Homo sapiens: one gene and its partners. The protein of the gene in region 1 purifies or fractionates together with the protein of each later gene. This does not show direct contact. Each region holds a gene or a part of one and is shown in the gene's direction. Other genes may lie near its edges.

What was found.
Region 2: the proteins of VEGFB (region 1) and ARHGEF28 purify together in Homo sapiens (co-immunoprecipitation; one large-scale study listed by IntAct). This does not show direct contact.
Region 3: the proteins of VEGFB (region 1) and KREMEN2 purify together in Homo sapiens (affinity purification with mass spectrometry; one large-scale study listed by BioGRID and IntAct). This does not show direct contact.
Region 4: the proteins of VEGFB (region 1) and PPM1M purify together in Homo sapiens (co-immunoprecipitation; 2 studies listed by BioGRID and IntAct, with this or other methods). This does not show direct contact.
Region 5: the proteins of VEGFB (region 1) and COL6A2 purify together in Homo sapiens (affinity purification with mass spectrometry; 2 studies listed by BioGRID and IntAct, with this or other methods). This does not show direct contact.
Region 6: the proteins of VEGFB (region 1) and DGCR2 purify together in Homo sapiens (affinity purification with mass spectrometry; one large-scale study listed by BioGRID and IntAct). This does not show direct contact.
Region 7: the proteins of VEGFB (region 1) and ZMYM4 purify together in Homo sapiens (co-immunoprecipitation; one large-scale study listed by IntAct). This does not show direct contact.

What each region holds. Positions count from the first base shown.
Region 1 is NC_000011.10:64,233,333-64,237,383, forward strand, and holds the start of VEGFB (vascular endothelial growth factor B isoform VEGFB-186 precursor), read left to right. Parts: upstream 1-1,251; 5' UTR 1,252-1,501; coding exon 1,502-1,561; intron 1,562-2,125; coding exon 2,126-2,168; intron 2,169-2,480; coding exon 2,481-2,677; intron 2,678-2,921; coding exon 2,922-2,995; intron 2,996-3,854; coding exon 3,855-3,890; intron 3,891-4,051. Other genes in the region: DNAJC4 (dnaJ homolog subfamily C member 4), read left to right, coding at 562-781. UniProt on the Homo sapiens protein: Growth factor for endothelial cells. VEGF-B167 binds heparin and neuropilin-1 whereas the binding to neuropilin-1 of VEGF-B186 is regulated by proteolysis.
Region 2 is NC_000005.10:73,629,196-73,632,695, forward strand, and holds part of ARHGEF28 (rho guanine nucleotide exchange factor 28), read left to right. Parts: intron 1-3,500. UniProt on the Homo sapiens protein: Functions as a RHOA-specific guanine nucleotide exchange factor regulating signaling pathways downstream of integrins and growth factor receptors. Functions in axonal branching, synapse formation and dendritic morphogenesis.
Region 3 is NC_000016.10:2,962,811-2,967,074, forward strand, and holds the start of KREMEN2 (kremen protein 2 isoform d precursor), read left to right. Parts: upstream 1-1,464; 5' UTR 1,465-1,710; coding exon 1,711-1,804; intron 1,805-2,048; coding exon 2,049-2,223; intron 2,224-3,329; coding exon 3,330-3,421; intron 3,422-3,514; coding exon 3,515-3,639; intron 3,640-3,831; coding exon 3,832-3,985; intron 3,986-4,099; coding exon 4,100-4,264. UniProt on the Homo sapiens protein: Receptor for Dickkopf proteins. Cooperates with DKK1/2 to inhibit Wnt/beta-catenin signaling by promoting the endocytosis of Wnt receptors LRP5 and LRP6.
Region 4 is NC_000003.12:52,244,523-52,248,558, forward strand, and holds the start of PPM1M (protein phosphatase 1M), read left to right. Parts: upstream 1-1,236; 5' UTR 1,237-1,302; coding exon 1,303-1,526; intron 1,527-1,644; exon of another isoform or gene 1,645-1,792; intron 1,793-2,172; coding exon 2,173-2,290; intron 2,291-2,451; coding exon 2,452-2,706; intron 2,707-3,159; coding exon 3,160-3,272; intron 3,273-3,630; coding exon 3,631-3,715; intron 3,716-3,798; exon of another isoform or gene 3,799-3,812; coding exon 3,813-3,931; intron 3,932-4,036.
Region 5 is NC_000021.9:46,104,612-46,108,111, forward strand, and holds part of COL6A2 (collagen alpha-2(VI) chain isoform 2C2 precursor), read left to right. Parts: intron 1-3,500. UniProt on the Homo sapiens protein: Collagen VI acts as a cell-binding protein.
Region 6 is NC_000022.11:19,056,413-19,059,912, reverse strand, and holds part of DGCR2 (integral membrane protein DGCR2/IDD isoform 1 precursor), read left to right. Parts: intron 1-2,750; coding exon 2,751-2,927; intron 2,928-3,500. UniProt on the Homo sapiens protein: Putative adhesion receptor, that could be involved in cell-cell or cell-matrix interactions required for normal cell differentiation and migration.
Region 7 is NC_000001.11:35,359,209-35,362,708, forward strand, and holds part of ZMYM4 (zinc finger MYM-type protein 4), read left to right. Parts: coding exon 1-238; intron 239-393; exon of another isoform or gene 394-569; intron 570-1,985; coding exon 1,986-2,047; intron 2,048-2,410; coding exon 2,411-2,581; intron 2,582-2,982; exon of another isoform or gene 2,983-3,058; intron 3,059-3,500. UniProt on the Homo sapiens protein: Plays a role in the regulation of cell morphology and cytoskeletal organization.

The sequences.
Region 1 (4,051 bases):
GGTTCAAGCAATTCTTCTGTCTCAGCCTCCCGAGTAGCTGGGACTACAGGCGTCCACCACCACACCCGGCTAGTTGTTTTGTATTTTTAGTAGAGATGGGGTTTCACCATATTGGCCAGGCTGGTCTCAAACTCCTGACCTCAGGTGATCCACCCGCCTCAGCCTCCCAAAGTACTGGGATTACAGGTGAGAGCTACCGCGCCTGGCCACAAAGCCGATTTTCTATAGCAGATACCTAAAGGCCAGTGCCCACTGCTAGCAGCCTGCCTAGTTCAGTGATGGAGTTAGACGCATACCCTTTCTAGTCTTCTGGGAGGAGCACCCCCATGTCCACAGCTGCTGTCACACCTCAAAGTGACCAGGGACTTCGGATGCCATTGGACCCTAGACAAGCCAGGGCCACTCTGAGCCCTCCCTATCTATCACAGGAAGGGTTAGACTGAGGTTCCTAACCCTGTGTAAGGGTAAAAAGCTGTGAGGCCCCTAGAGTGGGGTGGAAGGGGGCAGGACTTCAGGGACAGCAGGAATTGGATTCCCAGGGTTAATTGTGACCCATTGCAGGAAGGTGAAGCAGATGCACCTTAACTTCATGGATGAAAAGGATCGGATCATCACAGCCTTCTACAACGAAGCCCGGGCACGGGCCAGGTCTGTCCCTGCTCTATTCTGCTCCCTGCTCCCTGTCCAGGAACCACACTTCGGGATCCCTATCCCAACCACCCAGGTGCCCTCTCCTCCAGGGCCAACAGAGGCATCCTTCAGCAGGAGCGACAACGGCTAGGGCAGCGGCAGCCGCCACCATCCGAGCCAACCCAAGGCCCCGAGATCGTGCCCCGGGGCGCCGGCCCCTGAGGGGCTCACCTGGATGGGGCCTGCAGTGCGTTCCCGCTTTGCTTCCTTCCCTGGACGGCCCGCTCCCCGAAACGCGCGCAATAAAGTGATTCGCAGAGCTCGTGTCCGGCTCCCTCCTTAAGGCCCGACGCCCCCGGCCCCGGCCTCGCCAAGGGGCAGCGCCCCGCCCTCCGGGTAGTGGCGGCGGCGACTGGGGAGCCCAGCCTCCTGGGCGGTGCGTCCCCTTTCCCCTGCCGCGGCGGGAGGCGGGAGGGGGTGTGTGGAGGAGGCGGGCCCCGCCGACGGCCTCGCCCCCCCACCCCGCCGCCCCGCCCCCGCCCCACGGGCCGGTGGGGAGCGCGTGTCTGGGTCACATGAGCCGCCTGCCCGCCAGCCCGGGCCCAGCCCCCCGCCGCCCCCGCCGTCCCCGCCGCCGCTGCCCGCCGCCACCGGCCGCCCGCCCGCCCGGCTCCTCCGGCCGCCTCCGCTGCGCTGCGCTGCGCTGCCTGCACCCAGGGCTCGGGAGGGGGCCGCGGAGGAGTCGCCCCCCGCGCCCGGCCCCCGCCCGCCGCGCCCGGGCCCGCGCCATGGGGCTCTGGCTGTCGCCGCCCCCCGCGCCGCCGGGCTAGGGCGATGCGGGCGCCCCCGGCGGGCGGCCCCGGCGGGCACCATGAGCCCTCTGCTCCGCCGCCTGCTGCTCGCCGCACTCCTGCAGCTGGCCCCCGCCCAGGTACGTGCGGCCCGACAGCGCGCCCGCCCGCCCGCCGTGCCCTCTCTCAAGGTTGGCGGAAGTGAGGAGGCGACCCGCGGCCTCGGCCGAGGGGATCTGCGGGGTCCGGCCTTGGACGCGGGCGTCTCGGGGGCCCGGCGCGTGCATCCCCTGGGAGGTGCCCCTCCCCGCTGGCCCGCCAGCCCCAGTCTGGGGCCACTCCTCCGCCCCACCCCGTCCCCTGGGCACCGCCGGGGGCGGGGCTCCCTCGGTGCCTGCAGGACCTGCTTCGGTGGGCACTGTGCGCGCTCCTGATCTGCATGCAGCCCCCAAACATGCTCGGCTCCGCGGCCTGGAGATTTGGCGCGGCCACCAGAGCACCTGTTGCGTTTTGGGCCAGGGCAGGTCCCGGGTGGCCAGGAGAGGACAGGTAAAGCTAGAGCAGTGGCCGCAGGAACAGAGCAATCTGGAAAGATGTCAGAGAGGTGGTGAAGCCTACTGATGCAAGGGCAAAGCCCCAGGGACGGTGACAGGGCCACACCCTCCTAAAGTGTACCTTGGGTACAGGTCTTTTCTCTCCCACAGGCCCCTGTCTCCCAGCCTGATGCCCCTGGCCACCAGAGGAAAGGTAATACTTACAAAAACTCGGCACTAGCCAGCACTAAGAGGGTTTGTCATGGGCCCTGATTCCAGGTGTCCATCATCTTGTGTAACTCCCCTAGAAGATTCAAACTATTATTCTACCCATTTCACAGAGGAGGAAATTGAGGCAGTGGGGTTACTGGGATCTGGATAAACAGGGCAGGGGAAGACAGGTTGTGAGGGCAGAGTGGGGAGGGCTAGTGGAGGGTGGCTGTGACTTGGGGACTGGGGAGGACAGATGCTGGGAGCAGCTGCAGGAAAACCAGTGAGGACTTAACCCCTACCGGTCTGCTCCCAGTGGTGTCATGGATAGATGTGTATACTCGCGCTACCTGCCAGCCCCGGGAGGTGGTGGTGCCCTTGACTGTGGAGCTCATGGGCACCGTGGCCAAACAGCTGGTGCCCAGCTGCGTGACTGTGCAGCGCTGTGGTGGCTGCTGCCCTGACGATGGCCTGGAGTGTGTGCCCACTGGGCAGCACCAAGTCCGGATGCAGGTACTGGGCAGGTGGGGCAACGGGCAGGGGATGCAGGTACTGGGCAGGTGGGGCAGCGGGCAGGGTGGATGCTGGCTGGCTCTGGGGCTGGGGCAGCCTGGAGACTGATGCACAGGAGACAGGGTTGGGGGGAGGGCTGGTGGCCAGCCTCCCGGCTGTTGGGTGAGCTTTTCTCCCTTCAGTCTTAGAGCATCCCCTTTCTCTCTCTCCCTCACTGTCCCCCCTGTTCTTCTCCTGAGCACAGATCCTCATGATCCGGTACCCGAGCAGTCAGCTGGGGGAGATGTCCCTGGAAGAACACAGCCAGTGTGAATGCAGGTGCCAGCCAGGCCCAACTTCTGAGCTCGCAGAGGCCAGGCTTGGGGGGTGCTGGGTATGGTGGTCCACAGAACTGGGGACCAGGTTCCTAAGAGTAGAACCAAGGGGCCGGGCGTGGTAGCTCACGCCTGTAATCCCAGCACTTTGGGAGGCCGAGGCGGGCGGATCATGAGGTCAGGAGATCGAGACCATCCTGGCTAACATGGTAAAAACCTGTCTCTACTAAAAAAATACAAAAAATTAGCCGGGCGTGGTGGCGGGCACCTGTAGTCCCAGCTACTCCGGAGGCTGAGGCAGGAGAATGGCATGAACCTGGGAGGCGTAGCTTGCAGTGAGCCAAGATCGTGCCACTGCATTCCAGCCTGGGCGACAGAGCAAGACTCTGCCACAAAAAAAAAAAAAAAAAAAAAAAAAAAAGAGTAGAGCCAAGGGTAGGCCTTGGATCTGGGGCAACAAAGTAGGATGCTTGGGCCGGGGGTAGTGGCTCACACCTATAATCCCAGCACTTTGGGAGGCCCAGGCAGGCAGATCACCTGAGGTAAGGCGTTTGAGACCAGCCTGGCCAACATGGTGAAACCCCATCTCTACTAAAAAAAAATACAAAAATTAGCCGCGCATGGTGGCAGGTGCCTGTAATCCCAGCTACTTGGGAGGCTGAGACAAGAGAATAGCTTGAACCTGGGAGGCGGAGGTTGCAGTGAGCCGAGACCACGCCACTGCACTCCAGCCTGGGCAAGAAGAGGGAAACACAGTCTCAAAGAGAGAGAGAGAGAGAGAGAGAGAGAGAGAGAGAGAGTAGGATGCTGGGATTTCCTGATCTTCCTCTTGTTTGTCTGTGTCTGTCTATCTTACTTTTCAGACCTAAAAAAAAGGACAGTGCTGTGAAGCCAGACAGGTGAGTCTTTTGGACTCCAGCTGAGTAGGGGTATGGGGAGTACAAGTGAGTCCAGAAGCTGTTGCTCCTCTTTCTCCTCCCACCCGTCCCCCACTTTCCCTTTTCCTCTGCTCCCCAAGCCTGTGTTCTCTGCCCCGACCCCAGCTCTAGGGAAGACTCTT
Region 2 (3,500 bases), on another chromosome or scaffold:
TTAAGACATTTGGCTGGCCAGGGTGGGGGTGGTGGCTCATGCACATAACCCCAACACTTTGAGAGGCTGAAGTGGGAGGATTGCTTGAGCCCAGGAGTTCAAGACCAGCCTGGGCAACATGGCAAAACCCTGTCTCTACAAAAAAAATACAAAAACTAGCCAGGCATGGTGGTGTGTGGTGTGTGCCTATAGTCCCAGCTACTTGAGAGGCAGAGTGGGGAGGATAGCTTGAGTTGGGGAAGTAGAGGCTGCAGTGAGCTGAGATGGTGCCACCACATTTCCAGTCTGGGTGACAGAAAAAGACTCTGTCTCAAAAAAAAAAAAAAATTAAAGACATTTGACTGGCAAAATAAGTCATGTAACTTATTTTTTTAATGTGATAGTGCATCTTCTTAATTGACTTCCATTTTTCCCTTGAAATTTGATCTCAGGCACAATAGTAATTTGCTTATTTGTAACATTATTGCTCCTGGACTTCTTCTCCTGGATAACCAAGATAATGAGATCTGACATCATTTTTTAATGAGAGAAAGTAAAAAAGTATATAATTGAATAGTGGGCATTTGTTCCAGTGATACTGGTTTTGAACACTTGTATAAAAATGTATTTTAATTTTCAGAGGTGTTTTCTCTTGTTTTAGTTTAATCTTTCCCTCAATTATAAATAACTCGAGGTCTGATTTCTGTAGAAAGTTAACATACAAGCGATGTTCTCTTAAGAGCAGATGAAAATGTGTCTATGAGTGAGGACCAACAGGCAGAAATCAGCAGTGGTGGCTTTGCTCTCCATAGTAGCCTGTTCAGAAGAGACCTTTCCAAAGCCAGCAGGCAAATAGCATTCTGCCTATTTCTAGTGGCAAGCTTTGTGTGACTGCTGTGCACATGATCATTGTGCCTTTAAAAAATATACACTTGAAATGTTAATATGCTTCAAATATATATAATAGACATTCCCTTAATAAATAGATGAAGCGTATATTGTATATATTAATGACATTTATGGTTTAGCTTTTCAATTCATTATCAAACACTAGTGACCATGCCCTTTCTGTTTAAGACTTACTCCTTTTCTTCCATCATTTTATAATTCAAGAAATTATATTTCATAAACTCTCATGAAGGGGGTTAGAATGTGGACTTTGGAGCCAGACTGTCTGGGTTAAATAGCCCCAACTTTGCCCTGGCTATGTGACCTCTCTCTACCTCAGGTTTTTCCATTTGTAAAATGCGGATAATAATAGTAACCTGCTTCAACTGTTGTGAGGACTCCGTGATTTAATTTACAGAGAACCCTCCTGGTAGTGCCTGACAGAGAGTAAGTTGTAGTTATAGCAAATGGAAAATAACCATTTAAAAAGGATAAAAGGGTAGCAGGTTTTTCAGCTTTCAGAAGGTAGTGAGATGTCAGTGTGACCCCAGGAGAAATTGCCCTAGGCTGGGAGTTGGAGGAAGGGATGGAGTCCTCTGGCTTTCCAGTTTTGTGACCTTGGGTGAATATTCCTACTGGAACCCTATCTGGTCCCAGTTTCCTCATCCAGTAAAATGGAAAGGATTAGACTGGATGACCTCTAAGAGCAACCCATTTTTTAACATTCTACTCAGTCTTGATGAATTGAATGTGAATGTGATGTATTTGTCAATTTGCTTTACTTGTCTTGGTCAACACTACTGGAAAGGTACTGTCTAAAAGGTTAGCATTGTGCCTGCAATAGGCATTTGAATAGATGATGAGCTGTCACTCTTATTCCTTATCTCTCCTTGACTACCAGACAGTCATCAGGTTTAAATGACTTGGAGTTATCTTCCTGGACTTAGTCCAAAGAGATTTCAGACATGCAAGTCCAGATTCCTTGTGTGGGCCATATGGCTGCCCTAGTCCTCTTCTTCTGAAGAACCCCTCATGTAGAAGAGGGGTGGTATAGCTCTGGAAAGAGGAAAGACAAGTGGGCTGACTGTTTAATTTTATGATAAAAATAATTTCTATCAGGCAAAGAAGTCTCATGAAGGACTTTTAAGTATGGTGAAAAGCAAGAGGTTTCATTGGGCTGGATGGTTCAGACAAAGTCCCTCGGGGGCTTATATTTTTGTCTTTTCCCACTAAGACCCTGATTTACTGTCTGTACATTGTCACTGGTTCTTTTTCAACAGTGCTTCTCCTTTTCTTGCTTCACCAGCCTCCTGGTTTGCTGTATGATCAGGTGTTAGAGTTCTGAAAGGTAGAGGATATTCAGTGATTAATGAGACTACTGACTATGGGTTCTTTACTTTGAGCCTCTAACCCAGGATTTCAAGCCCTGTTGTTCACTGGAACCACCTGGGTTCAGAATCTCTCAAGTGGACCTGGCATCATTTTCTAAAGAGGTGATTCTAATGTACAGCTGGGTTTGATAGCTACTTTCCTAATCTTTAGGTGTTTCTGGCTTCCTACATTGCACAGTGCCTAGGGAAAGGGTAACACCTGCTATTTCTCATGGTGTTACTGTTATGCTGTTGGTGTGTCAACTGCCTCCTGCTGTTTCTCCCTTGTGAACTCTCCAGTTCTGTTAGCCAGGACTAGTACTGCCTATGGAACATGTTGTGTGTTTCTGACTTCTTTGACTTTTTCCTAGTGGGCCCCTTTTCCTCCCTTGCCAACAAGTATTGCAGTCCTCAAAGCCCAGCTTAAACCACTTTCTGCCTGTAACCTTCAACTAACTTAGTAGCAACTGTGCTGCTTTCCCTTTTGAACTCCTACCACCCTCTCATTTTTTACTTACCACCTGTCCCTGGGTTCATTTTGTGTTCCTGTATATAAGTCTCAACTTTACATCGTGACTGTAGCCCATTAATGACAGGGACCCTGATTTAGGCTACTTTGTAGGGTGCTCAAAGTAGAATATACACGTGTTGGTCAGTTATTTAGTTATTTTGCTAACTGTCGTCTCAAGTCCTTCTTGTTTGCAGCACCACTGCAAGTACTAGTGGTGGTGTTTTCCTGGGTATCCGATGTGGATTGCGTTGGAAAACACTGGGGTACAGGGGGAGGAGGGCAAAGTTTGCTCAGGAATTAGACAGTTAGTCCTTCCCAGATGTAAATGGGAGACCTCATGGACCTCTCTGAGGAAACTGTATCAACCTGCATGGGGAAATGAATGAAATTCTTGATTAAAATCTGAGTCTTTGGATTGAAAGAAACCTAAAAGTTTTTCTCTAGTCTCCAGAAGGTGCACAATTCCCCTGCATGGCCTATCTCCAAATGGTTGACCAGTCTGTCCTTGAATACCTTCAGTGATGAGGACCTCATGACCATAAAGATAATCCATCTATTTGGAAAGCTTAGACTTTTAAAAACAATTCTCCCTTATCCTAAGTTTGTCACAGTTCTGCTATGTGGAGGCCATTCTGAACAATTTCTCTTATATGGTAGCCTCTAACATTTAAAAAAATTAATTATATATCCTACCTTCAAGTCTTCTTTTATTGAGGTTAGAAAATAAAAATCTGTTTCTTCAGCCCTTGTTA
Region 3 (4,264 bases), on another chromosome or scaffold:
AAGAGAAACCGGGCAGACAGGTGGTCCCGGATGCTCCCTCGTCGGGAAGCGCAGTTGGGTTCCAGGGAGCCCGTGGGTGCTGGAGGCCCCAGCTCAGGGCTCAGTGAGCCGGGCCAGCCTGGCCTCTGAGAGGGCTCCCGGAGGAGGCGACCAGGACCCTGGCCTAGAGTCTCAGCAAGTCCATCTCCTTCAAATGCCCCCACCTCGGCTCCACGCCCCTCCTCCAGAGCACACTCGCGTGAGGCGCCAGCTGGAAGATCCTCGCGGGTCCCAGCACCGCAGTGGGTGCCTGGGCCTGACAGAACCTCCCTGAACCCCATCTTTCTTCTCCATCGACACCGGGGCAGAGACGGTGTGGGGGCTGCAGGGCGGGGACTGGTCGGCCTGGGCTCGACAGCTTGGCGAGGGCCTGGTGCGGGCTGGGCAGGCTGGACTGAGGGGCAAAGAGGTCTGGGCGGGGCGGGGCCGCTCTGGGCGCCCGGCCCCCACCAGTTCCTTCCCCCGGCCCCCGCCTCCGCCCTCCCACGCACCTGCGCTGGCCTCCCCCCAAGCCCTGGGGGCAGCGGGCGGGTGGCGCTGGGAGATCAGAGGACTCGGAGGAGTCGGGCCCAGGGGGAGGGGGCGGGGAATTTCCCCCCACGCCTGCCTGGGCCTGCTCCCCTCCCCCTCCCCCGCCAGGTGGGGGGCACGGCTGGGGGAATTCCACTGCAGTGTGAAGGCTCGGGAGAGTCTGGGCTGGGGGTCCCAGGGAAGGGCGGGGCAGGGGGAGGAGGAGGGGACAGACTGGGACCTGGGGCGCAGCTGCCTTTCTCCCCAGACACCAGCTGCCCCTGCCTGTCCCGGACTGAGCGTCCACGACTCCCGCCTGTCTCGTGGGCGCGGGGGCAGGGAGTGGAGCTTCCTCCGTCAGGCCAGCGGCATCTGGACCAGGGGCGGGAGGGGCGTGCGGATCCGAAGAAAGTGTGCGCGTGAGCGCCTGGCAATGAATGGGAGAGAGTGCGAGCGCGTGCGTGCACTGGGAGGAGGGCGCTTGTAACTCGGACATTCCGGGTGTCCTGGGGCGCGTGCGACCACGTGAGGGGGTTCTGTATCTCCCATTTTAAGGGCCTTCCGTCCGCTTGCCCCGCCTGTCCCCCTCCACACCTTCCCACTTGAACCGGCACCGACCTGAGGGAGAGGGGGCCGGGAAGCGCTGGACGCCCGGGGTCGGGGGAACGGGCGTGGGAGGCGTCTGGACCTGCTGCCTCCGCTCCAGTGCTGGGCGGGGCTTCCCGGCCTCCCATGGGGGGAGGGAGAGACCCAGGGGGAGGGACCCACGGAGGGATGCGAGGCGGGCAGGAGTCAGCCCGTTGGAGACCTGGGCGAGGGAGACGCCGAGAGCTAGGCTCAGTGGGAGGGGGCGGGCGTAGAGGCTGAGGCACCGCCCAGAGCTCGCTGAGACAGAGACTGAGAACGCCCCCGGCCAGATTCCCCCCGGAGAGACCCGGGTAGGGACAGGGACAGAGAGACGCCTCTAGGGGCAGAGGCCCTGGGAGGCAAAGACCCCCAGGAGAGATTTACCCACCCCAGACGGAAAGCGCGGCTCAGAGTCGGACGAGGGGAGACTGTCAGAGGACAACGCCCCCTAGGTCTCCTGGGAGACCCCGAAGCGACCCCGGGGGCAGCCCGGGCCGTGTCCGGGCGAGGGTGACCTATCCTTGGTTGAGAGCGATGGGGACACAAGCCCTGCAGGGCTTCCTCTTTCTCCTCTTCCTCCCGCTGCTGCAGCCGCGTGGGGCCTCGGCTGGGAGCCTGCACAGTCCAGGTAAGTCCCCGCACGGCTGTCGGGCCGTGTTCACCACCCCTTCCTCGGCCTCCGCCCCCAGGGCCAGGCCCCCAAGGCTAGGGAGGGGGACAGAGCAGGTGGCCGGAGCAGCTGAGCAGCCCGAGGGCTCCTGCAGGGGCGGGTGCGGGGTCGCTGGCTGGGGACCCAGGCGGGAGGTGGCGTAGGGGCGCGAGGATGCCCGGCGTGGGTCCGGACCTCCCCAGGCCCTGCCTTTGCCGTGCAGGCCTGTCCGAATGCTTCCAGGTGAATGGGGCTGACTACCGCGGCCACCAGAACCGCACTGGCCCGCGCGGGGCGGGCCGCCCGTGCCTCTTCTGGGACCAGACGCAGCAACACAGCTACAGCAGCGCCAGCGACCCCCACGGCCGCTGGGGGCTGGGCGCGCACAACTTCTGCCGGTGAGGGGCGGGGCCTGCGCTGGGGGCGAGGCTGGGCTCACCATTGCAGGGATGGCCCGAAGCGGGGCCTCCGTGCGGGCGGGGTGGAGGTCTGCCGTGGACTGGCAGCCCAGCCTCCTGGAGAACCTGGGGGCGGGGCCAGAATGAGGGGCGGGGCGGGGCGGGGCGGGGCGCGCGGAACCCTGGCGCAAAAGGGATCCTCCTCAGGTGAACAATTTCTGCAGAGCTCCAGTTCAGGGCCAGGAGAGAAACGGACCTGGGCACTCAAAGGACCCGTATGGGCGGGGCCTGGTCAGAGCGGGGGCCGAATGGGCGGGGCCTTGTCAGAGTGGGGCTCTTGTCATACAACTTATTTTGGGGTTCAGAGCCACAGCTACGGTCTGAGGCAGGATGGACCCAGCGGGAGGAGAGCCGCAAAGCTCAGGAGCTCACTTCTGCTTTTAAGTGGGGTTGGAGGCCAGGCGCGGTGGCTCAGCCTGTAATCCCAGCACTTTGGGAGGCCAAGGCAGGCGGATCATCTGAGGTCAGGAGTTCGAGACCAGCCTGGCTACCATGGTGAAACCCCATTTCTACTAAAAATACAAAAAATTAGCGGGGCATGGTGGCGGGCGCCTGTAATCCCAGCTACTCAGGAGGCTGAGGCAGGAGAATCGCTTGAACCCGGGAGGCGGAGCTTGCAGTGAGCAGAGATCGCGCCAATGCACTCTAGCCTGGGTGACAGAGCGAGACTCGTCTCAAAAAAAAAAAAAAAAAGTGGGGTTTGAGGGACGGAAGTGGCTGAGGCCCATGCCGGGTGGGGGTGAAGAATACAGATGGCCTCAAAGTCCTCATATATGGAGTCAAGTCTAGCAACAGCTGAAGCCTAAAAACAGCTCTCAAGTCCCCTTTAATGACTTCCCGCTGTCCACTCGGAAGTCGACGTCCAGTTCCTTCATCAGGCAGAGTTCTGCGTAGACAAAACTGGAATTTGTGGGTGTACAGCAGGCAGCACAGCCGCTCACAGGCACAGAGCCTTGAAGGCCACTTTGAGCATAGGCTGCGGGGCCGGGCCTGGGTTTGCTATTCTTGGGGTGGTGGGAGCCCCACCACCTCCCTCCCACCCGCAGTAACCCAGACGGTGACGTGCAGCCGTGGTGCTACGTGGCTGAGACAGAGGAGGGCATCTACTGGCGCTACTGCGACATCCCCTCCTGTCACAGTGAGTAGCGCGGCTGGACAGAGGTGGGAACGCTGCTGCATCTGGGAGGAGGGTTGTTTTCGGAGTCACGGAAGTCTGACTCTGCCCCCTCAGTGCCAGGCTACCTGGGATGCTTTGTGGACTCAGGGGCACCCCCAGCCCTCAGCGGCCCCAGCGGCACCTCCACGAAGCTCACGGTCCAGGTGTGCCTACGCTTCTGCCGCATGAAGGGGTACCAGGTACTGCTCACGGGCCCAGACCAGTGACCCCTGACCTGGACCTAAAGACCACACTCAACTCCCAACACTCGGTTGCCAAACCCAGACACCGGTTTCTGAACCTCCAGCCCGATTCCCACCCCGACCCCAGGCCCCCACCACTTCACCCCTACCCCAGCCCCTGCCCTGGGGTCACCCAGTCTGTGCTCCCAGCTGGCGGGCGTGGAGGCCGGTTACGCCTGCTTCTGTGGCTCTGAAAGCGACCTGGCCCGGGGACGCCTGGCCCCCGCCACCGACTGTGACCAGATCTGTTTCGGCCACCCTGGACAGCTGTGTGGCGGCGATGGGCGGCTGGGCGTCTATGAAGGTGAGGAGTGGGCGGGGACCAGGGGCCTGGGCGGGCCTCGAGGTGGGGCCTGGCCGGGCAGGGGAGCCGCCGTGTCCTGGTCCTCAGGATGCTGACTGCCGGCCCCGCCCGCAGTGTCGGTGGGCTCCTGCCAGGGGAACTGGACAGCGCCTCAGGGCGTCATCTACTCCCCGGACTTCCCGGACGAGTACGGGCCGGACCGGAACTGCAGCTGGGCCCTGGGCCCGCCAGGCGCCGCGCTGGAGCTCACCTTCCGCCTCTTCGAGCTGGCCGACCCGC
Region 4 (4,036 bases), on another chromosome or scaffold:
CAGCCCTGGGTGTCCAAGACTTCCCCTCCATGGGCCTCAGAATCGTCCATATGATGTAACACTCTTTTTTTTGAGACTGAGTCTCGCTCTGTTGCCCTGGCTGGAGTGCAGTGGCTCCATCTCGGCTCACTGCAACTTCTGCCTCCTGGGTTCAACCGATTCTTGTGCCCCAGCCTTCTGAGTAACTGGGATTACAGGCGCACACCACCACGCTTGGCTAATTTTTAGTACAGACGGGGTTTCACCATGTTGGCCAGGCTGGTCTCGAACTCCTGACCTCAAGTGATCCGCCCGCCTCGGCCTCCCAAAGCACTGGGATTACAGGCGTGAGCCACTGCCTCCGGCCAAAGTAACACTTTTGCACAGGGAGTTGGACTTGAGTGACAAATGGGTGACAAAGTGCTTTGTTAACTCGCAGATGTGAAGGGGACACTGCGGCTGACCGCCTGGTGACAGCTAGCCAGTGGTTGAGAGACCGCAAGATGGTTCCTCGTCTTTCACTTCCCTCCGTCCCAGGTCTGAACTCGGACCAGCTGGAGCCTTTGGGGGACCACGGATTCCCCTTTACACTCACACAGATTTCTCTTGTCCGTCACTCACTCACAGTCCAGTAAGGATCCTGCTGTCTATTCCGCGAAGACATCTTGAATGCAGGGACAGCCATTTGGAAGACTGTCCTCGAGGGTGGCAGCAGCCTCTCAGGACGGGGAAAGCCAAGGTGCCCACTAAGCCCGTCTGGGGTGGAGGGTGGCAGGCCGGGGTGGAGAGGATTGGAGGCCGCCTGAAGGAACCTGTGCTCGGTGGCATTTACTCAATGTGGGGGTCTGACACCTCCCAGCTCATTTTGTCCCCATCTTCCCCTTGCGTCAGGTCCCCACCCAGCAGGAGGAGGTCCGAGGATCTGCGCGACGCTGGCCCCGCGGAGTGTGGGGGACTTTTCCTCTCAACCACCAGTGCCCCGCAAGCGTGGGTGAACAGTCCTCCCTGGCTACTGTGGGACGCTGGGCAGGCGACTTCGCCTCTCTAGGCCTCGGTTTTCCTGCTTGTCAAATGGGGCTGATGCCGGCGTGGGCTTCTTCAGGCGGTCGCGAGCGTTGACCCCTGGAGTCAGCGAACCAGCCGCGCACGCACTCCCGGGCGGAGGTCGGGGCTGGGGGGCGACGCCTCCCGTCTGCGCGCCCCCGGCCCCGCCTCCCGCCGGCGCACCCCTCCCTCGGCTCCGCCCGCGGCCCGCTTCTTCCTCCCGCGGGCGGCCCAGCCCTAGCGCCCCGCGCTCCGCGGGCAGCCCCCTGCCGCCGCGCCATGTCCGCCGGCTGGTTCCGGCGCCGCTTCCTGCCTGGGGAGCCGCTCCCCGCGCCGCGGCCGCCTGGGCCGCATGCCAGCCCCGTGCCCTACCGACGGCCCCGCTTCCTTCGCGGCTCCAGCTCCAGCCCCGGGGCGGCCGACGCCTCGCGCCGCCCAGACTCCCGGCCCGTGCGCAGCCCCGCACGAGGACGCACGCTACCCTGGAATGCAGGCTACGCCGAGTGAGTGCCCCTCCCCGACCCCCAGCTCAGGCCCGGGCCTGAACCCGCTTCGGGTCCTGCGCCCGCCTAGAAAGCGGGAGGAGCTGAGTGACAGTCCCCACCCACCTGTGGACAGCCCCTTCTTGCCCTCACCTCCGAATCCTGACAACTTCCCGGTCATCCCGACCCAGCGTTTTCCTTGGGATTCCGACCTCCCCCTCAGAGAAGACAGGAGGTCGGGAAGGACCTGCAGCCCAGGGGCTTCCAAGATGAGGCCCAGAGACTCGGTAGAGTTCCAGCATTCGGGGCTTTGGAGATTTCCCCTCGCCCTCTACCCCCACCATCTCACCCTGGGTATGACCTGCGCTGTATGGGACAGGGCTTTGGGCTGCGACAGGACAGGGGCAGGAATGGCAACCTACCCTTACCGTCTAGCCCTGGGTCACCAGGTAGGCTCCAGAGGAGCTGGGCCCTGACTTTTACCTTAGCCATGAGGCCAGTGAAGTTAGGAAGCTTACATCGTGGTTGTCTAAGTGTGTGTTAGGGACAGCACTGGGGAGCTGTTGCCCCAGAGGGAGGGGTCTTCTCCCTGTGCTGGCTTGGGTCCCTGTGCCCATGGGGACATAGGTGTGTCCCTGGAGGGTCGCTTACCATTTCCCGGCCTCAGGATTATCAATGCAGAGAAATCTGAATTCAATGAGGATCAAGCCGCCTGTGGGAAGCTGTGCATCCGGAGATGTGAGTTTGGGGCTGAAGAAGAGTGGCTGACCCTGTGCCCAGAGGAGGTGAGTGCAGTCTGAGTTCTTGGCTGGAATCCCTCCGACAGGCTGGGGCCACGACCTGCAGGCTGAGGTTCTTACCCTGCTGCCCCAGGTCCTAGTTAGGTTGCGTCAGGGGACAAGTGGGGAAGTCAGGCAGAGGCTGACACTGAGCCCTTCCTGTGCAGTTCCTGACAGGCCATTACTGGGCACTGTTCGATGGGCACGGCGGTCCTGCAGCAGCCATCTTGGCTGCCAACACCCTGCACTCCTGCTTGCGCCGGCAGCTGGAGGCCGTGGTGGAAGGCTTGGTGGCCACTCAGCCCCCCATGCACCTCAATGGCCGCTGCATCTGCCCCAGTGACCCTCAGTTTGTGGAGGAAAAGGGCATCAGGGCAGAAGACTTGGTGATCGGGGCATTGGAGAGTGCCTTTCAGGAATGTGTGAGTGTGTGGCTTTTGGCTGGGGAAGAAGTGGAGATTTTGCCCCGGGGATCTCAGGAAATGGCATCTCTGTATACCCATGGTCATCACACCAGATCCTTGGATTGGGAGGATGAGATTGGGTTGGTTGGATTGTTACTAACAGCCATCACTATCAGCATAACCCCTCTCATTTATCCAGCACCTACTGTGTGCTAACTGCTTTTACCTGCATCATCTAATTGAATACCCTATTGGTCCTTGGTGCAGGGGCTGGTTTCTCTTCCTATTTTGAGTAGCACTTCCCTTGTCTAGATCTCCTGACTGCAGGGATCTTGGAGGTATGGCTGGACTTTGGGCTGGGACTGTCAGGCCTGCTGGTAGAAGTGAACTGTAGGGTAGGGTGGGGATTGAGAGACAAAGTAGTATGGTGGCAGAACAGGCAGCAGCTAAGGTGGCCTCGGTTTTCCCCAGGATGAGGTGATCGGGCGGGAGCTGGAGGCCTCAGGCCAGATGGGCGGCTGCACAGCCCTGGTGGCTGTGTCCCTGCAGGGAAAGCTGTACATGGCCAATGCTGGGGATAGCAGGTGAGTCACCCCTTGGAGGGTGGGCAAGGGTGGGATGGGGAGGGCATAAGCAGCAATGGGGACAAGCAAAGGTGGCTGGAAGTGGAGGGATAGTAGGAAGGATTGACTGGCTGAATTGTGTGTGTACTTGTTATGTGTCGAGTGTGGACAGTGGCTGCCGGGGAGGGCAGGGACCTCAAAGGCCCCGCTAAAGGGCTAAGCCTTCACCCTTGCAGGTCTTAGGTAGTCATGGAGGGCTTTAAGGGATCATCATGGACAGAGCTGGATCCTGGTGGTTGGAGGAGGGACTGGTAGGAGGGTGGCCATGGGTGAGGGTGGAGGCCTCCTCCTAGACCTCTCCCTTCTCTCCTCAATCCAGGGCCATCTTGGTGCGGAGAGATGAGATACGGCCACTGAGCTTCGAGTTCACCCCAGAGACTGAGCGGCAGCGGATCCAGCAGCTGGTAGGTGCCCTTGGCAGCATGGAGGCTGTGAAGCTCCAACTCCTGGGTCCAGGGCCATAAGAAGGAGTATGACCTGAGCGCAGCCTCCCCACCCCAGGCCTTTGTCTATCCTGAGCTTCTGGCTGGTGAGTTCACCCGACTGGAGTTCCCTCGGCGGCTGAAGGGGGATGACTTGGGACAGAAGGTTTTGTTCAGGGATCACCACATGAGTGGCTGGTGAGTGGGGATGGGGGACAGGTAGGAAGGGAGACCCCTGGGATCCAGGCCCAGCCGTATGGCCTGGGGCCCCCCTCCACCTTGGCAGGGTGGCACTGTGAGGGT
Region 5 (3,500 bases), on another chromosome or scaffold:
GACTATTTGAAGAAATAATGGCTGAAAACTTCTAAAATATGATGAATGACATGAATATAACCATCCAAGAAGCCCAAAAAGCTCCAAGCAGGATGAACTCAAAGAGACCCACACTGAAACATTCTAATCAAATTGTCAAAACCCAAAGACAAAGATTTTGAAAACAGCAAGAAAGAATGATTCATCACATGTAAGGAATCCTCAATAAAACTATTAGCAGATTTCTGATCAGAAACTTTGAAGGCCACAAGGCAGTGGGCCAATATATCCAAAGTGCTAAAAGAATAAAAACTGTCTACCAAGAAGCCCACATCCAGCAAAACTGTCCTTTAAAAGTAAGGGAGAAATTAACACATTCTTAGATCAACAAAAGCTGAGAATGTTCCTTACCACTAGACCTGCCCTATAGGAAACGCCAAAGGGAGTCCTGCGGGTTGAAATAAAGGGTGATAGACAGTAATTCAAGTGAAGAAGTAAAGATCTCAGCCAGGCATAGTGGCTCATGCTTGTAACCCCATCACTTTGGGAGGCCGAGGCAGGAGGATAACTTGAGCCCAGGAGTTCAAGACCAGCCTGAGCAATATAGGGAGACCCTATCTCTATAAAATAAAAATATTTTTAAAAATCGACCAAGCATGGTGGTGCACACCTGTGGTCCCAACTACTGGGGAGGCTGAGGTGGGAGAATCATTTGGGCCTGGGAGGTTGAAGCTGCAGTGAGCTGTCACCACACCACTGCACTCCAGCCTGGGCAACAGAGCAAGACCTTATCTCAAAATAAATAAATAAATAAATATCTCAGTAAAGGTAAATATATAGACAATTATAAAAGCTAATATTGCTGTAACAATGGTGTGTAATGCTGCTTTTTGTTTTCTACATAATTTAAGAGACTGATTTAAAAATAACATTATGCTTTTGGACACATAATATATAAAGGTGTAATTTTGTGACATCAATAACTAAAAGGGTTGGGGACAGAGCCATTCAGGGAGCAGAGTTTTGTTTATGCCATTGAAGCTAAACTGGTATAAATTCAGTGTAGACTGTTATAATTTTAGGATGTTAAAATGCAATCCCCATGGTAACAACAAAGAAAATAACTAAAGAATAAATACAAAAGGGAATGAGGAAGGGATTTAAATGTTTCACCATCAAAAAAATTAATTAAACACAAGACAGTGATACTGGAAATTAAGGACAAAAAAATCCATAAGGTATACAGAAAAAAAATGCAAAATGAAAGAAGTCCCTCTTTATCAGTAATTACTTTAGATGTAAATGGATTAAACTCTCCAAACTCTCTCTGTTAAAAGACAGAGATTGGCAGAATGGATTTAGAAAGCCAAATCCAACTATATGCTCTCTACAAGAGATGCACTTTAGATCCAGAAACATAAATAGATTGACAGTGAAAGGATGGGCAATGACATGCCACACAAATAGTAACCAAAAGAGAGCAAGAGTGGCTATACTAATACCAGACAAGATAGGCTTTAAATCAAAAAAGGTTACAAGAGGGAAAGAAGGACATCATATATTAATAAAAGGCTCAATACAGCAAGATATAATAATTATAAATATTTATGCACCTAATAACAGTCCATCAAAATATTTATATCTTACACTGGGAAGATTGTTGCTGGCTCTCAGTCTGCTTCCAGTCTGCTCATATTGCTTTTGTTGTAATGATGGTCATATGTGGGAGCTCAGTGTCAAGAGGGCAGACTTGAGCCCACACTGCCAGGCTTCAGACCTCAGCTATTAGCTGAGTGCCCTGGGCAAGTTACCTCACTGGGCCTTGGTTTCCTCATCTGTTGGAGTGGGGATGGTAATAGTACCTATGTCCAAGGCCATAAGTCCAATTGTGAATGTTGAATGAAGGGATATAGGACAGTATCTGGTACACAATTATTATAGATTTTTCATTGACATTTTATACATTCTGTTTTCTTCAAAGACTTTTTGGTTCCTGTTTTGCACTCAGATACTTCCTTTTCCTGGAGTTTATTTGGGAGCACCATGTGAGGTAGTACCTTTATTTCTAGTCACAGGGTGAGCCCTCATCCCAGCCTGCTTCCACCACTCTGAAAGGCCACCATGTCATAGCCTAAGTTCTCGTGTGTTGTTATGCCCATGGTTGTGTGGAGTGTTGGCCTGTTCCAGCACCAAAACCAAAACTGTAATTTTATCGTTTCATTTGATAGCACAAGCTTTCTCATCACTCTATTTTTTATTTTGCTCAACTCTTCTTGCTTTTTCTACCAAGTAAAACTTGGATTCATTTTGCAAACTCCTATCTACAAAAATGCAAAAAATTTTCTTGGAAACTTTAATTAAAATTGCATTCTATTATAGATTCAGTTAGGAATAACTGATATTTTTAAATCAGTTTAAGATAGTGGGATGATTTCTTATCCAAAAACAAGGTTTGTCTTTCCAATATATTTCTCAAAAATTTTTTTGAGTTTTTTTCATAAGTCCTGCACATTTTTATTCAGTTGATTCCTTGGGTTTATGTTGTTTTTCTTACTAGTGTAAATAGCATTTTTCTGCAACATTTTCTAACTGGTTGTTAGAAAATGTTTCTTCTAACTGATAGAAGAAAATCAATAACTTTTTGTATGTTGAGGACTAAGCTCTGATTTTTTTATCTTGCCTATATTCTTATCTAAGGGGTCTGGGGAGTCATGCCCTACAAACCATAAATTCTCATCAGATGGTTTTATCTAACCCTATATGCTGTGACTTACTTTCCATCTGACTCTGGCATGACACTACACGACCAAGAAGAAAATAAAAATATTTTACCCCAAAACATGTTTCTTTGCCACATTTTGAAATGGCCCTGCAAAGCTGTCCTTTACTGGGGAAAATTTGCATCTGTAAGGAATCTCTGTTAACATAGCTAGCTCTTTTTCTTCCAGGCCCTCCCAATTCTGAAGAGATTAACCGAGAGTCTAGCAGCTTTTAAAGGTCTCAGTAGGAAACACTTGTCATTGATTGTCTCTAAGGGCAGCCACTATGAGACTTCAGAAGAACCTTGGTCTCCACAGTCTTTTATCTTAACCTGAGCATTTCCTTTCTATGATCCCAGGTCTTTAGACAAACTCAACCAATTGTCAACCAGAAAATGTTTAAATTTACCTGTAGCCTGGAAGCCATCTCTCCCCGCTTTGAATTTTCCTGCCTTTCTGGATTAAACCAATGTATTTCTTAAATGTATTTGATTGATGTCTCATGCCTCCCTAAAATGAATAAAACCGAGCTGCACCCCAGCCACCTTGGGTACATGTTCTCAGGACCTCCTAAGGGCTGTGTCATGGGTCATGGCCACTCATATTTGGCTCAGAATAAATCTCTTAAAATATTTTACAGAGTTTGACTCTTTTCATCAATGATATATTTTTCTAAGTGGCTCACTAAATTTTCTCTCCCTAATCTCCCCTCCTTTCTCTTTCTTTCTCTCTTTCTCTCTGTCTATATATATATATATTTTT
Region 6 (3,500 bases), on another chromosome or scaffold:
GAACAATGGGGGACTCGGGGGCCGGGGAGGGTTCTCCAGGCTCGGCGAGCAGCGGTGGACATGGAGGTGGCAGTGGCTGCTCGCACATGTGGGAGAGGATGTGGTGGCAGAGGTAATCAGGTTCAGATGCCCTCGTGTATCAGTCTGGGGAGCAGGGTGTCCTCCGGTGGCTGGTGACGGCCCAGCCCAAGGCTCCCGTCAGAGTCCTGCGCACACCTCATGTGTGGACATATGGGAGGGGCACCTGGAAACTTGCCGCCACCCTGTCGAGGTGAGGACTGGATCTGCTGGGGTGGCAGGGGGTGAGGAGTAGTGTCTTGGAGGGAGGCTTGAGAGGAGGGCTCTGCACGAGGAACTGCTCCCAGTCACTCTGGTAGCCAGGGCAGCTCTGCTCACAGGGCCTTTCTCTAGGATGAGGGTCCTTCAGGAAGAGCGGGATGTTTGAGGTAAGGGGGTGTCCAGGAGGAAGTGGGAGGCCCTGGAGGAAAATCTGCAGGAGTCATCCCCAGTGCAGTATCGGGAAGCCTCCAGGCTCCTCTCACACCTTTGGAATATGTCCAGGATCTCATCACCTGGCACCAGTCTTGCAGCCCCCACCGGGATCTAACACCCAATCATCCGTCACCCGATTGTGCTCGTGGCCTCTGTCTGGTCTCCTGGCCCCAGCCCCACCGCTCCTCACACAGCTGCTGGGGGTCCTTTTCACCTCTGCTCCCTTGTTCACAGCTCTCGTTTCTCATAGAAATCACAGTTCCATCAAGGCCAGCAGCCCCTTCCTTCACTACCCTCATCACCTACCACTCCCCAGCCTCTTCTCCAGCCCCACAGGCTGCCTTGTTCATGGCTGCCACTGTGACCTCTTCCAGGGATGCTCCAAAGACGAACACCTGCCCGCTCTGCAAGGCTGCACCTCGGGTAGGCATGCAGTGCCCGCATGACCAGCCCCCATTCAGCACCTGGATGCAGAGCCACCAGCAGCTCCCCTGGGCAGGGGCGCTACACAGGTGCCCATGCAGCTTGCTGCCAGGAGGGAGCACTGTGTGGCTCTCTGGGCCCTGGCCTAGAGTGCCACACGAACCCTGTTTTGCTGGTTGCCTGACTCACTCTGACTTGCTGTGCCCCGGTCCAGGCAGCTTTCGTGGGCAAATGCTGGGTCCCAGGACTCTGCCCGGAGAGGTCATTTGTGTCCTTGGTCTCAGTCTGCTGTCATGTACTGTAGTTGTGGGCAGGAGCTCTTAGCTGGCAACTAGCTTCAGCGCTGAAGATTTTTTGTTTGTTAAAGATTGGAAGGAACCTGTTTGGTTTTCTTGCCACGGGACAAGAAGGCAAATAGTGAAGAAAACAGTGTTTAAAAGGGGAGGGGCTCTACTTAGGTGAGAAGGCATCTGTGGGAGATGAGGAGGGTGTGCAGGGGCTCGGGGGCCTGGAGGAAAGGTGGGGTGGTGCACAGCGTGATGGTGGTGGCACCCACTGTCAGCAGTGGAGACCAGCCCTCCAGGTGGTATGGGGAGGTGACTCCAGACAGTGGGCCCCTTTCCTGCTCTGCTGTGGGTCTGATAGATGCAGATGAGGCAGGCGAGATGCTGGGCCTGTATGTCCCTGGGAAGGGGGCACAGCTGTTGCTGTGGCTGCCTGCTGGCCTGGCACAGGTCTTGCAGGTCTCAGAGCTTCCTGAGAGCTGTCCTCCTGCCCATGGCAGGGCACCATGTGTCCACAGGCCCACAGCATAGGCCTGCCTCCAGACTCACTGGCTTTTTTGAGGCAGAGCCCCATGTTTCGTGCTGGGTATAAACAGAGCTCCAAAAGACGCAGGTGAGAATGCTGGAGGCTTATAAATGGGGTGAGCTGCACTGCTGCTGTCTTAGGAGGGGGAGAGCACCAGGTGTGCCTTCATTATTCTGCTTCTTGGAAAGGTTGCTTTGTGTTTCCATTGATCCTGGTCGGGTAAGCCTCAAGGAATCTTGGCAGCCCAGACTGGAAGGGCCGTGCAGGGGAGAGAGTGGGGCCTAGGGCTGGCTGTGCCATGCCCTGGGCATGGCCAGAGCCCACCTGGAACCTTGCAAAAGAGAGGCTTGGAGGTTAGCAGTCCCCAACCCTCACGCTCTCTGCGGCAGGGGTACACGGTTTCTGACTGCCTTGTGCCTGGCTTAGGCAGGAGCTGAGTGGGTGACAGTTTCCCTTGAGCTGAGAGAGGTCCCCGGGAGCCAGTGCTTCCTAAGTGTTCCCTGCAGCCAGCTGCTGGCAGTGCCGGCCAGTGCCAATGCTGCCTGACGGCGCCTTTCTCCTGGGTGTTGGGTGGACTTTGTAAGTCTTCTGTTTATCTGAGTGTGCTGTCCTAAGGGAGAGCTTCCCTGCCTGTTTCCCTTGCCCATTCCCCTGTTTGCATTTTAATCCAGTGTGCCACAATCCATTACTTTGTTATTATGCTGTTGCTCTAACTTTAAATGCCACCCACTAACCGTGATCCAGCACCCTCTTCTGGTGCTCAGGCTGGCACTTACTGCTACCCAGGGTTTGTGGCCTGTGTGCTTGCAGGCTCCAAGGAGTGGCTCCCGCTAGGCCCAGCACCTGGGGTGACTCCCAGGAGGTTGGGGAGTCCCGAGTGAACACCTGGCCACAGTGACCACCAGTACTTGGCGGTCCAGGCCCTGTGGTTGATGATCCTGTCTGACGCCATGGTCCCCTTGAGGACTGCACAGCTTGTCCTCTGATGTGATGTTGTCCAGCCCCACCTTTTGTCTCCCCAACAGGCTCTTCAGAGGTGTTCCTGCCCCCAGACCCCATCTTTGCCTCGGCCATGTCTGAGAACGACAACGTGTTCTGTGCCCAGCTTCAGTGCTTCCATTTCCCCACCCTGCGGCACCACGACCTCCACAGCTGGCACGCCGAGAGCTGCTACGAGAAGTCTTCATTTCTGTGTAAAAGAAGTAAGCCCCCTTGAGCTGGCGTTCTTGGGGAATGTCTGGGCCCTTGTGTCACTTTGTTGGACCCTGAGTTCAAGGTTTCGGAGGCAGAACCTGATTTGCAGTGTTGCGGTGGACGCCCCTTACCAGCTCACACCTTGTTCTTGGGGCCCATTTGCAGCTCTGTGACCAGGGCAGCTGGTCAGCATCTTAGAGCCCACGGAAGCATCTTAGAGCCCAGCTTCTTTTCCCACGGAAGAGACAATCATCCCTGTCCTCCCTGTTGCAGTGTTGTTAAGAGAGTAAATGGGAATGAGGACCCAAGGACTTGGCATCTCTGGAGCATCTAAGGCTGTTTGTCACCTCCCCACCCCCCATTTCTGCCATCCTTCTCTCTGCTTCTCTGCTTCTCTGTTTACCTTGCCAGTCTATGGTGTGTGTGTTTTTTTTTTTTTATTAAAGCCAGCTAACTCTATTGCTTTTGGGGGACAGGGGTCTCAGGAGCTCTTGGTGGGGCAGGTCCCCTTCCTCTTCACCATCACAGGCTTCTGGCTTCGCAGGATGGCGCTGGCTCTGGGATGGCAGCTGTGCGCAGGT
Region 7 (3,500 bases), on another chromosome or scaffold:
AATGAAAATGAAATACAAATTCAAAATAAGTTAAAAAAAGACTTTCCTAAACAATTTGATCAGGTTTCTGTCTTTAAATCAATACGGAAAGATTTTAGTCTAGTAAGAGAAAACAGCAAAGAGACATTTTCTGGAAAGGAGAAAAATAGAGACCTAACTTATGAACGTGAAAAACGGTTGGATAAACCCCATAAAGATTTGGATTCAAGGTTGAAAAGCAGTTTTTTTGATAAAGCAGGTAATAATTGTTGGACTTAGAACCATAAAACACAATTAAAAATTACCGATCATAATATATAGCTTTTATTACTTTTGATGTTAAGTGAAGTATGAACGGTTAAATTCATTGTAAGCTTGTCATTTTTCTTTTGTCCTTGTTCTTTGCAGAGTGACTGAATTTCTCCCAGTAACTTTTGGTAATGGTATAAATGGTTGAAAATAGCTCTAAACCTCATTTCTCCCTCCCCTGGTTGCAATGTTTTGATGAGAAAGGCAAGATACTTGAATCACCTGTTCATTTTCTTTGGTTGAACATTGGAACCTGAAGTTGGATTTAACTTCTTTGTGCTGTAAGCACTAATTCAAACTGCTGTCTCACCACTTAGTCCAAATTAGGGAGTTATTTTATTTTTTTAATTTTAATTTAATTTTTTGTTTATTAACTCTCACCTCTATCTGAAAGGGAGTTTTTTTTTAATAAAAAAAACCCAAACATTTCTAATTTATGTTTTAGAAGTTTCTTGAGGTTCCTCCTGAGCCTCTTTGCCCAGTGTACCCTATACTTTAGCTTTAGTTAACATTCTTGAATATATCACATATTTCCTTCTATGCCTTCCTTTCCTCCTGCTATTCCATTTGCCTGCATGTCATTTTCTCTCTGTATATTTGCTTGTGAAAGTACTTCTTATCCAACAATGCCTAACTCATAAACCTCTTCTACTCTGTCATCATTCTAACTGCTCTACATCAAGAATGGTTTCCTTATCTATATTTCCACAGCATTTTCATGCCTCATTATTTATAGTACTTATCACACAGTATTATAGTTCTATATTTGTTTTACCTTACCTACTAGTGTAGGAGTTGAGGGCCAGATTGTATCTTACTCATCTTTGTATTCTTGGGGCCTAACCTGGTGTAGTAAAATAGTAATTCTTCAATAAATGTTCAATAGCTGTGAAGGAAAGCAAGTATTCTATACCAGTCCTTGTATTTCTTCTAACAATGCTAGGAAATGTATGGTAGAAAGAACAAACCAGTATTGTTAAAAAGACAGCTTTTGAGTATGTACAAGTCTGTGCAAGGATATACTATATTTTTCTCTATAATTCAGTATATATTTCCAATATCCCTTCTTGGGGTATGAGAGTCATGTTTCTCAAGGAACATAATGTCTAGTAGTAGAATGGACAAGACAAGTCAGGCCGTAGAAGTGCCAATGTCCAGCTGAATAGCGTAAGATTTAATTTACAGTTAAAGACAGTGGTAGAAGAGTTTGTCATAAGGCAGTTCAAAAAGATGTCTTTCAAATAACTGAAACTGTGTTTTAGGGATTCTTAGAAGAGAGATGATTTTTAACTTAGTGAACAGGGAAGGTTTTATAGAGGAGAGGTGAATTTTTAACTGAGCTGAGTCTGGAAAACTGTATAAAGATTAGGATAGACAGAGGGGACTTGGAATAGAATAAGTAGAAATGGGGGAGAACAAATGCAAGCAATTTTCAGAGCAAAAATAATTTTTTTTTTTTTTTTTTTAGGTTTGAGCAAGGAAAAAATGTAGGGTAAGGCTAAAAGCTAGGTGGGGCCAGATTGTGCAGAACTTTGAGTGAAAATACCTTTTGGGTGTTTTTGGGACCCAGTTCACTCTAACGAGCATCTTTGTTGGAAAAGAGAGGTGATTATCAAATGATAGCTTTTTAGGTCACTCTTTGTAAGATTTGTTATTCATATACATGTGTTTGTTTGTTTTTTTTTTCCTTTCAATAGCTAATCAAGTTGAAGAAACATTACATACCCATTTACCACAAACCCCAGAAACAAACTTTAGGGTAAGTTTTCAGTGTGTATGTAGATTGCTGTAACTGTGACAAGTGTCAAAGTTTTCTTTATGTCAGTTTCTAAATTCTAACAATGTATTAGGTAGAGCACTGATTTTTTTTTTTTAATTTGCTTAATATTTGTTTAAGGTCATCATCGGAGACATTCTAAAAAGCCTCAAATCTTAGGGTCTTTATTTGTATTTGGTATTTGGACATATAACACAATTACTTTTAGGCGTAGGCATAAGATCCAAAAGCTAATGAATGTCCATAGAGTTCTTCATTTCCAATGAGCTTTTCTTTGGGTGTTAAACCTGAAGAGGAATCATTTTAAAATCTGAATATTTATTAATCCTTTATATTGTGTTTTAGGATTCCAGCTACCCATTTGCCAATAAAGAATCCATTGGTTCGGAACTGGGGAATTCCTTTGCATCAAATATTAGAATTAAAGAAGAACCTTTGGATGATGAGTATGACAAAGCAATGGCACCACAGCAGGGACTACTAGACAAAATAAAAGATGAACCTGACAATGCTCAAGTAAACATTTCACCTTTTTTCCCCCCTTCTTTTTGTTCCACACATTGAATTATTCATTTGAGAGAGGAAGTGCTTAAGAAGTGAAATAGTTTGTTGACAGGGTGAAAGGAAACTCTTAAAGAAGGTTGAGGCGATTTGAATTACCATATAAGGCATTAACGAGCTATATGAAACTTTTCCTGAGTAGTAATTAAGGCTTTTAATCATCTTTGTTTCTTAATACCACTGTGATTTTTGCAATGCATTTTAGCGCAAGGCTTTGAGAACTATACAGCAGATATGGTTGAAGATTTATGGTAGTTTATAAGTTTGTGGTGCAATCAAGTTTATGTAGGATAGTAAGCCTTTTGCAGTTAATGCTAATGAAGTACAGGCTATATATGGATTTAAATATTTTTCAGGAGGGGTTAATGGACAGATCATCTTTGGAAGGGTTAATTGATTGAAGAACCAGTTCATTGGATTAGTGGATAGAAGGTAAAGGAGGCTTTGATGAATGATACATGATTCCAAGTTTGAGATCTGTGAGTAATAAGAGTGAAGGTAGAGCTCTGCTATTTCAAGGTTGCTCTGGAGATAAAATCATAGAGATCTTAAAACTGTGAGGTCCTGAAGTCAGCTAAGCTATCCATGCAGTTAATGATGTTGCTGTTGTTGGAATAGAAGAAAAAAGTTATATCAGATGCTGCAATCATTTTGAAGTGCAAGAAGGGGTCCAAGGGACGAATATGCAATAGCAGCAATTATTTGAGGGTATCTGTGTTTTGTAAAGATGGTATGAATTGGCTCTTTTTCTGAAATGACATTTAATCTGGGGGAAGCTTATATTTTCCTATCTTTCTGTTTATATTAGAAGGTTTGAGACTGTCAGACTTCTGTGGAAGTGCTTTCTTTTTCTTTTCTTTCTTTTTGTTTTTTC